Regions from separate parts of the Homo sapiens genome. Here region 1 is linked to region 2. Evidence: fine-mapped expression QTL. A gene starts in region 2. The other region holds a variant in brackets. All regions are shown on one strand. Distances are between the middles of the regions. Region 1 has its middle 27 kb from the start of WDR1. Region 2 holds the start of WDR1 (WD repeat domain 1).

What was found. PIP is the estimated chance that this variant, and not a neighbour inherited with it, causes the effect.
Region 1: its variant is the best candidate, but not a certain one, in a credible set for the expression of WDR1 in whole blood (TOPMed, PIP 0.86).

What each region holds. Positions count from the first base shown.
Region 1 is chr4:10,141,034-10,146,400 of GRCh38, reverse strand. No RefSeq gene overlaps it. Among named protein-coding and RNA genes, the nearest start is that of WDR1, 27 kb to the right of the region's middle. The variant A/G (reference allele first, on the strand shown) is at 2,878.
Region 2 is chr4:10,114,431-10,119,797 of GRCh38, reverse strand. WDR1 (WD repeat domain 1) reads left to right here and starts at 2,999. Exons shown (of 15, transcript NM_017491.5): 1 at 2,999-3,147; 2 at 3,564-3,685. The coding sequence starts at 3,132. LOC124900666 (a long non-coding RNA gene) reads right to left here and starts at 2,709. Exons shown (of 2, transcript XR_007058030.1): 1 at 580-2,709; 2 at 321-471. It also overlaps the pseudogene RNA5SP155. RefSeq lists enhancers at 1,498-1,587, 1,668-1,767, 3,538-3,687, 3,338-4,142 and silencers at 2,688-2,807, 2,818-3,227, 3,308-3,457.

The DNA.
Region 1 (5,367 bases), 27 kb before region 2:
AGCAATGTAGTCTTTGTCCTCAGGTTAACCCTTCTCATCTCTACCCCCATCCAATCCACAGGAATCTGGATTGGCATTTCACGGGAGATCTTGCAGGGCTATTATTGCCATAAGTCACACTTGGCAATTAGGAAGTAACAAGTGCTCACGGGATAAACACTCCTATGCAAGAATGAGGGAGAAGCCTGCAGAAACCCCAGGGCCTACAATATTAGTGACGTTTTCAGGCGTTTGATTCCCACACCAACTTCTGTTGTACCTACAACCCCTCTCAAAGCTCATAGCTCTAACCTCCTTGGGAATTCTTAAGCAAGTTAGAAAAGGAAAAGTTAGAGTCAGGGTTTATAGATGGATTTGGCTTATTTTGAGCGCTAAATATAAACCACTCCAACACTATGCAGAGGGCACCGTAAGAAACGGACCACGTCTTCCCACTGAGGATTTAAATTCACCTGATTGTCTCTTATAAGAAGTTTAAGGAAAGATACTGAATCATATGCATTAAACAGACTGGCTGTCCAGGCCCTAGGAGATTAGAAGATAAGTCAACAAGATCTGGAGAAGAGGCATAAAGAGGAACCCATGGGAATGGGGAGGAACCCATGGGAATGGGCAGGAAACCTATATAGGCCAAGTCATAGGTCGGTCAGAGCCTGGCATGAAGCTCCCACAGGATGCATTTAGTCAGGTGCACGGGACGCATTTAGTCAGGTGCACGGGACGCATTTAGTCAGGTGCACGGGACGCATTTAGTCAGGTGCACGGGACGCATTTAGTCAGGTGCACGGGACGCATTTAGTCAGGTGCACGGGACGCATTTAGTCAGGTGCACGGGACGCATTTAGTCAGGTGCACGGGACGCATTTAGTCAGGTGCACGGGACGCATTTAGTCAGGTGCACGGGACGCATTTAGTCAGGTGCACGGGATGCATTTAGTCAGGTGCACGGGATGACTTATAGCCAGGTGTAACTCGGCCACCCGAGCGCTCCTAGAATAGGCCCATTGACAGCCATCCAACTCCATGGTCCTGACCTGTAACAGACTTCAATTAAGACCTCTATAAAGCCACCATCCCTTAGACAAATCCACCACCCAATCCCTATTCAAGACACAACATGCTGCTCAGTAGGGAGTAGTCTGCCAGCCTTAGTCAGTCCCTCCAAGGGCAGCCCACAGCCATGAACTAGCCAAACCAGCAGTCCTACCCATCTGTGACCTGGAACCACCTTAATGAGATGCTGCCTCTGGAGCTCCCCGACAGGCTCAGTCAAGCTTTACATCCTAGTCTGACCTCTGCCCGATCCTGCTTCCTTCCCCTTTTCACAGGTTTTAAATCTATTACACGTTTTAGACAAACTCTTCCAGTCTTGACTCAGCACCTCCAAGAGCTCAACTGCACCATCTCCATGAACTATTCCACAGCCGACCCAACCTGGCTCAAGGGGGAAAGAAGACTGGCTTGTGATGGCCTCTTCCATAGCCTACCCTTGGTTCACCAGCAGTTTCGAGGCAGTTTGCTAACAAGAAACCCAGTCTGGAACTAGCATATTTGAGTTGCAGTATTTTGGACAGATGTCCTATACTATTTATCTAGTAGCAAGAGTATAGGTCTGGATCCAAGGAGAAATTTCTCCCTCACAACCCACAATGCTCAGGAGGGAGACCATTCATGTTCCATCCCTGCAAGGTTAGTTCTGGCAGGCTAAGACACTGCAGTCCTAGACACTTCCACCAGGGAACAAAAGCAGTGCCACCAGGTTATTCTGAGCTCCTTTGCCTGGAGATCAGGGGTTGCTGATACAGGGAGGAAAGTATATGGGATGTGGGTGAGTCACTAGGGCACTTTTTGGAGCTTCCCAGTGGCTAGGCTTCACAATGGCCATAACCTGACCAGACCAGGATCTCAGACCACTTAGGAACAAAAGACTTTGGTCACCTAAACCAGTCAAGTGTTGGCCAGCTGTGATGTAGTTCGCAGAAGATACAGTGACTATCAACTACATCTTAGAATGACAGTCCTTACAGACCCGATTTGAAACCATAGCTGCCCATCACTTGCAGATCTGACAACATGTCACACACCACCTTCACAGAACTGTCTGGCTGTGAGCATGCTTACCTACTAAGGGCTCTAGCTGTTAGCTCATGTTCCTTTTGGGGTGGCCCCAAGCCAACATTGAGCTGAGCCATTTCCACCTAATGTGGGATTCAAATTGAGGATTATCTTGCTCCAAAGCTCCCTGCTGGACTGGCAAAATTGTCAGGTTCAATTATGATGGGACAGCTTCCCTTTTCTTAAATCGTAGATCTTTTGTATTCCTAATTTAGTGCATATACTTTCCAGACAATTCAACCACACAACCACCATGAGCCATGAGTGTCAGTGGATGTAACGTGGTCCAAGCTGGGAAGTCAGATTCAGCACTGCCTCCTCCCCTACCAACCTGGAAGAACCTTGGCTCTTGGCGAGAAGCAGCTACTAGCACAAAGATGGGGACCACACTGACAAGGCAGCCTCACACCTTCTGACGCTGCACACGGGTCCCCTGCATGCCTGTCCCTCCATGAGTATCAGTAGGCTCCCTTTTCAAAGTTTGGACATCACAGTGAGTTAAGTTTGAGAGGCAGAATCAACACCAAGAAAGTGTCCTGGGGAGCTGTGAGGATATGCTGTCACATTCCGGCGGTTGACTCCTTTACTGAGACTCATCTGTGTGAAATGAGTCGGTGAGGAAGATCAATCAGCCTCGACCAATACAATCTGTACAACCTAAGGTGATCTGGCCTATTCTGCCCAAGCAGTTCAGTCATGAACCACCTGAAGAAGTGGAACCACCAACTCAAAGTCAAGATTCTTCACCTGCTCAGGAGAGAG[A/G]GGACGACGGAGCATCTGCAGCTCAAAGCCCTGAGCTGAAAGCTGATTGCCAGGAACTGGTTCAAAGACTGGGTATGAGCATGGAGATGATCCTGATGTGAAGGGGATGTGCCTACTAAACCCCAGAGCCTGGGAAACTGCCAGAAGGTGAAAAGCAATCAGCGTTAAAAGACATGCTGAAATGATGCGGGCTGCTATGTTGGGAATTTGTTCATTCAAAGTTCTCTCAGTTTACAGCCTTCCGGGAGGGGGGAAAAATAGTCTCCAGAGGAGCTGCCCTGCAGAATTTGCTACTGGGTGGGATAATTTATGGTACGCATAGATATTGTCACTTTGCCACAGCATTAACCATTGTGGTGGTTAACACTGAAGTGTCAACTTGAAGGAGGCAAACTATTGTTCCTGAGTATATCTGTGAGGGTGTTGCCAGATAAAAATTTGAGTCAGTGGGCTGCGAAAACCAGACCCAACCCTTCTCATCTGTTGGGCACAATCTAATCAGCTGCCAGCAAATATAAAGCAGGCAGGAAAAATGAAACGGTGAGACTGACCTAGACCCCCAGCCTACATCTTTGTCCCATGCTGGATGCTTCCTAACCTCTCAAACATCGGACTAAGTTCTTCAGTTGAGACTTGGACTGGCTCTGCTCCTCAAGCTTGCAGACAGCCTATTGGGGATCTTATGGTTGTGTAAGTTAATAAACTCCCCTTTATATGTGTGTATCCATCCTATTCTGTTCCTCTAGGAAACCCTGACTAGTATAGCCACCATTATGCGAGTGGTCGGTCACTGACACTTTGGATTTTCAGTTAAGGGAGAGAAAGCTAGTATGTTTAGATAGAACGGCAAGTGGCCAGAGGCATTCCCAAACATTCTGCAGAGACTATCTGGATAGTTTCTTGTTGCCCCCTTGACTTGGTCAACTGCTCACTTGTCCTCACACCTGAGGATCCTTTTATGGTGCCCTCAGGCAGTCAGTGAGATATCAGCCTACAGCTGTTTGCCAAATTCTTGGCAAGGATTCCCAACACCTTGCCCCTCAGGCTTCTAAGGAGGTCTCACCCATGGAATCTTGATTGAATTTCCAAGCCAAACCTCCCATGCTTGGATCTGATGTAAAGATAGTCTTCCAAGCAAAACCAGCTGCCTGGCAAGTTGAACTCAAGTCTTCAGAGATTTAGACCAACAGTAGGGGAACTCTGGATAGAAAGACCCAGATCCTTGCAAGAGCCTGGGAAGTGAAACCTAGGTGTGGGCCACTGTGCAGCATGCTTAATCTTTTATATATCAGAGGTGTCAGTAACTATTTATACTTGATTCAGATCACTACTGGAAGCCAGTGGTGTGGACAGTCAGTCGAAGTCGAGATTTTGTGATCTAGCCCTATAGACACTAAAAGATTCATAACCAAGTTCAAGTGTGGCAACTACCTTATGGATGGCCACACAAACTCGAATATGATCACTTGGAGTCACCACCCCTTTACTGCATGTTTACTTCTGCCTTTGCCAAGTGAGATTTTACAATCCTGGCTCCTATGTTTCTGAATTAAGATGTTGAATAAAAATGTGAAACACCTGTGCCAGAGGTCACTTAATATTGAGATATGCATGCAACAAGACCAAGGAAATGCATTTCTACTCAGCAGAGCCCCTAACCCAGGAAACAGACACCCGAGTGTGGAGCTCTGGCTCACATGGGCCAAGATGCCAGTCTCTCGTGGCTCAGTGATGTCACTCCCAAGTGAGAGTCACTGCCTGTGTCTCAGGATACAAGCCCCTCTTTCTAAAGGACAATAAGATAGACTCCCCAGTGCCATCCTTAAGATCCATCCTTGAGTCCCCAGAGCGCTAGGGGCTTTCTTTCCATCCTGGACACTGGCTGAGGGGAGTCCTTTGGCGTCCCCACCTGGTGGCCACGAGGCAGCACATCAAGACAAGGAAATCTGCTTGGGAGCTTGACAGTCTGACAACCCCCACCCCTCCCCCAGGGAGGTCCTGTGCCCGTGACAAAGATGTGAATCTTTGCAAGTCAACCCTTCTGGGAAAGGGGGCACAGACAACCTGTTAGAAAGTGAGCCAAGCTTGAATTTCGAATAAGGGATGGCAGGGCCACACAATCAGCATAGGTAGCAGGCTGTGGCTCAGAAGGGGCACAGTGACAGACACGGGTCACAGAGCAGCGCCTCCAGGGGCTCAGCCTGGAAGACTCCCTTTTACCATCAAGAGGTCAGGAGGAGTTATTGCCTCTGTGGCTATCTTTAGGTTCACTATGCACAGAATTGCCTGTTTCCTGATGTAATAGCTCTTAGTAAATGGTGGTTCAAGGGAAGTTATGTACGGTTATGCTAGTGGGGGAAGGAATAACAAAAAGGTCAGTTGTGAGAGACAGGCATTGATTGAAGTATACCGAAGAACCCGACCAGAGTCACTTCCTGGGACAGCTCCCCCTATCCCCAGTCCATGGTCCAGCATTCCCATCAGATCCTT
Region 2 (5,367 bases):
TGGGGGCCCAACACAACAGGATACACGAAGGCATGAGTGGTGACTAGGGGAGCCCAACGAATAGGCTAGACCCACAGTAAAGACGGTTCAAGTGTTAAAGCTCCCACAGCTGACAACACCAAACTGAGCTCGCGCCCCACAGGGAAAATCCTGGAACACCCTGGTGTTTCCCATTTTCCTTTCACATCCTTCAGATTTCCTGCCACGTTCATATAGACTCAAGTGACTACGAACAAACAGCTCCCCCACCACCACCATAAAGCCTCTGCAGCTCCAACATGTAACTTTCAAGCTAAAAATAAGCTGTAGAGCCCAGCAGCTGGGAGTTTGGATATGTTTTACTCAAGTTCGACTGTTTAGTTTTCAGTGTCAACTCCAGCAAGGCTTTATGCACGAGTGTAAAGGTTACCAGCTTGCAAGAGCTTGAAGTTGGTCCTTCGTTTTCTTAATCTTGTTACACGAATGCACTACCTGTGAATGCAATTATACCATTTGTTTTAAGGGTCTCAAGGTGATTTGATGAGTTCTAAGTTATCAAAGCAGATGCAGCGGCCTACAAGCCGGGCCTGCGTATCTTACTTTAGGAATCTGTTTTGTACATTCTCCACGGCTCCTCAGTTCGCAGAGCTACTTTCATATCCGTTATTTCCTGATTAACAGTTGTGGGTGGGGAGTGGGGTCATCCCTAGGAGCATCTTCCAGGTGTCAGGGTTATTCCTGAGAGTTAAAGTTAGGGAACGCGGGAATGAGAAGCAGTGTTTGCAAGGGGTTGAAGTTGCAATTTAAAATGAGACCGGTGACACTCATCAACTAACATTTGAGCAATTAAGTACTTCTGAAGGACACAGGAGTCAGCCAAGTAGATCTCAGGTAAGAGTTTCAGGAAAACACCCTCCGAAGCCAGTACCCAAGGCAAAGATGATACAGATGAGGGGAGGCGGACAACGGAGTCTAAGTGACCCGGAGACTGTCATCCAGGACCCTAATGGGCCGTTTTCAAGACTAGCTTTTACTTCATGAAACTTGGAGCCCCTACAGACAAGCTGAGGAATATTTTACTTCGGATGGATCACTCAGCTACCTGGAGAACACACAAGGTTAGGAAGAATAGGAGACAGGCAACATGGCCACTAACCCAGGTGAGCCACGAGAGACTGCTCTACAGAAGTAGGTAGCAAGAGACTAACCTTGATACAACCTTAAGCAGAACAGACCTTTCAGAGAAGCAGGAACCGCTCACAGCGTGGGTTTCAGAGTTTTTAGCTACCCGCAAGTACTTTGGTTTCTCCCACTTTTACCACCCTCCTAGCCCCCAGAGCCCCAATGGAAAACTTGTACCCACGCTACTGAAAGACGAGACTAGAAGCTTGGACACTTCACATTCCCTGCTCTCCCTTCCACAATTGAGCCACTGCCCTGGTTTTAGAAGTGGGGCTTGTTTTGCTCTGAAGTAACCCTTAACGTCCTTAGAAGTAGCAGCTCCCCTACCCCTCTCCCCACGCCTTTGCCTTTTAAAAACCTTAACTTTTGAGAGAGAGAAACAGCACAAGTTCAGGCCCAGCAGAGTAACCCCTACGTTGTTGCCAGCAACTACTTCAAGGGCAGTTAACCGTGCTTAAAGACGCCAAAAGCATCCATCTCCCGCTTACAACAACATTTAGCTACCCCCCACCCACGTACTTTGCTTTCTCCCACTTTTACAACCCTCCCACCCCCAGAGCCCCGAGGGAAAGCTTGTACCCATTCTACTGAAAGATGAGACTAGAAACTTGTACACTTCACAGCGCCTGCTCTCCAGCTGAGCCACTACCCGGGTTTTACAAGTGGGGCTTGTTTTGCTTTCTTAGGAAATAACCTTTAACTTCCTTAAAAGCAGCAGCGCCCCCACCCCCACTTTTGCCTTTCAAAAGCTAAACTTTTGAGAAAAAGCACGAGTTCAGGCCTAACAAAGAGTAACCCTTACGTTCTTGTTGCCAGTAACTACTTCAAGAAAAAGCACTTAACCGTGCTTAGAGAAAGACGCCAACAGCATTCCTCTTCCACTTACAACAACATTCAGCTACCCGCCCGCACCCCGCCAAATACTTTGCTTTCTCCCACTTTTACAACCCTCCCAGCCCCCAGAGCCCCAAGGGGAAAGCTTGTACCCATCCTACTGAAAGATGAGACTAGAAACTTGGACACTTTACAGCCCCTGCTCTCCCGCCACAACTGAGCCACTACCCTGGTTTTAGGAGTGAGACTTGTTTTGTTTAGGAAATAACCTTTAACTTCCTTAAGACCGACAGCTCCCCCATCCCCCACGCCTTTTTTGCCTTTCAAAAGCTCAACTTTTGAGAGAAAAAGCACGAGTTCAGGCCCAACAAAGAGTAACCCCTACGTTCTTGTTGCCAGCAACTACTTCAAGCAAGGGCACTTAACCGTACTTTAAGAAGACGTAAAAAGCATCCCTCTCCTGCTTACAAAACCCGAGCAGGAGGACTGGCGGCTGGGCAACGCCCGGGACCGGTCAAAAAGGAGAGGCCGGGGAGCGCCCGCCACGCAACGCGGTCACAGGTACAGAGAGGTTTTTCCAGACCCCCACCAAAGCCCGCCAGTACTTTCAGCGTCTTTAAGACCCCCCCGCAAATAAACTTCCTACAGCCCAGCTTCTCCTACAAGCTAGCAACAGAAAGGCACCCACCCCCCGACTCCCAGAAGCATTCTGACGCGGCTGCTTGTCTGCGCCGCCTTTTCAAGGGCCCGCGGGGCGTGCTATACGTCACTTCCGGGGCGGGGCGAGCAAGGCGGAGGCGGGGCCGGGGCCGGCGGGGGAGGGGAGCGCCAGGTCCGCGCAGGCTCGCCGGGACCGCAGCCGCCGAGCCGAGCGCTTGACTATATATGGTCAAAGCTGGGGGCGAGCCGCGCGCGGGACCGCGCTTCCGGGTTCGGGGCGTCCGCAACCACAGCGCGCAGGGCAGGCGCGAGCTGGCCTCTGAGCCCCGGCCTCGGACCGCCCACTCCACTCCCGGCACGCCCGGTGCCGCCTTCCGGCTCCAGTCCCCGGGCTCGGCCTCGGCGAGGTGTAATTCGCAGCGCGGGCCGGCCCCGGAGGCTCTCGGCGAGCGCGGCGCGGTAACAAGTGGGCGAGGATGCCGTACGAGATCAGTAAGTGCCGCGGCGCGGGGCCCCCGAGCGGCCGCCGCGCTGCCCCGGCCCCGGTCCCCGGCCCCTAGGCGCCGTGCGGGTGGCGGGGGAGTCCTCGGCGCGGGGGAGGGGTGCGGGCGCCGGCCGGAGGCGTGGCGGGGCCGCCCTCGGTGGTGCAGGGCGGGACCCCCGACGGGGGGTGCGCCCCCAAGTTGGCGCCGTGGGCCGAGCCGGAGGAGCCCCGCTGCCCCCAAGGGCCTGGCCCGGGGCGCGGACCAGGAAGTCGCGCGGTTCCTGGCGCTCGTGGAAAGTGGAGGCCGCCCTCCCGGCGCAGTCAACAGGTGACCGGCCGAGACCGGTCCGGGGCTCCTTCTCCCTTCTGTCCCCGCCGTCCCCGCCCTGCCCTGACATGCCCCGCCGCATTTGTGTCTCCGCAGAGAAGGTGTTCGCCAGCCTCCCGCAGGTGGAGAGGGGCGTCTCCAAGATCATCGGCGGCGACCCTAAGGGCAACAATTTTCTGTACACCAATGGAAAGTGCGTCATCCTAAGGAACATCGACGTGAGTACCCCCTACCCCGGGCGCGGTTCTGCTCCGGAGCCACCTTGGGATGGGATAATTCGCCTTCCTCTCCACTTCTCACCTCCTGCCCATTGGCCCGGGGAGGGTGAGGGCGCCACGCCCCCTCTACCGGGAGCCACACCTCGGAGCCCCGGAAGCCGGCCTCAGATTCACCCAGGTCCTTGTCTGCTCCTTCTTGATGAGGAAACTGAGTCTTAGTTCGTTTCTGTCTACGGTCATAGCACCCTGAAAGCGCCGGATCGCCTCTGATCTTGGAAGCTAAGCACGGTCAGGCCTGGTTAGTACGTGGATGGGAGATTAGATTAGTTCATTCCTTAAAAGCAAGGGCTCCGGATTTGAGGGATCAGACTGACCCGGTCGGCCGCTGCGTGACCTTGAGAAGATTGGCGATTTGGGCATCTCTGAGCCCCAGTTTTCTCGTCTGTAAAACAGATGATGAGATGATGACCACTCTCGCTTCGCCTGCTGGCTGGGCAGATGGAATGAATGAGCTGCTGGCGTCCCTCAAGCCCAGCGGTGCCTGGTGCACTTTGAGCCCTTGCTGAATGGAATGGCACTCAGCTAACTCGCTGTTAATACCCTGGTCTTCCAGTATGGCAGAGCCCGGAAAAACACCCGGGCCTCTGGGCCAGCCAGATCTGCCACCATGGATCTAAGCCCCAAAGCAAAAACAGGAAGCAGTGTTTTCCCATGAATCATTCTCTGCAAGCCTCCGGTACCCAGGCTGAAAAGGCTTCTAGAGCCAGCTCCTTGGGAAATCCTTGCAAATTCATGTTATTCCTCTGTAATTGTTGGGGTGACCCAGTCTGTCAGTCTCCCTCCCTTCCTGGGTTACACGCTTAAATTTTGCTTTTCCCTTCCTCAGCCTGAGTGATGGAATTGGTGGGGTGGGAGTTGGAGGTGCCGGCCCGGCCATTGGGTGATTTCTCCTGTGCTGTGCTTAGTGGGGGCGGCTGGCACAAAGATGTATGTTTTGATTGATGCCATAGGCATACAAGGGTTGTCAACTTAAAGTCAGCCTGATTTCCCTTGGTAGGTTGGGACTGTTGATCGGACACACTTGCCCTCCAGGAGGCCAGCAACTGGCTGAGGGAATGAAGGGGTCTCTGGGTCTCAGTTTCCTTCTCTGTGAAAGGAGAAGCCTCTTGGTCCGAAGAGCTGCTGGCTCTGCCCGCATCTGTCTCGTTAACCCAGGCAGTCGCTGCTGTTCCTCTGCTGGAAGACAGAGCTCTACCTGCCCTGGATTGCTGGGCCCCTCAAATGAGGGGGTGGGCGGGTGTGAATGTGCTTTGAAGGTGCTAACAACTTGCTAGTCACACAGATTCCTAGAAAGCCGAAGGGCCTTGCTTAGAACTGGAGAAAATCACCAGGGATCTAATGGTAATGATCTGGAAGTCTCCGAAGGCAGGTCCTGAGGCTTTTGAGAAAATAAAAATTGAGACAACCCTAAAGAGATATTTAGTAGTTTGGCAAATAAAATCCACTAACACGTCCTCGGATACAGAGCAGTAGGATATTTCGTTTTGCCCCTAACCAGGCCTTCCCTGTCGTTGCAGTCCACATTGACTTCCAGGGAGGGGGCCTCACATAAAGTACCTGCTGTGCATCTGGCCCTGTGATAGCTTCTTAAACTGTAGCATCTCTTTCCACCCCACATGGGT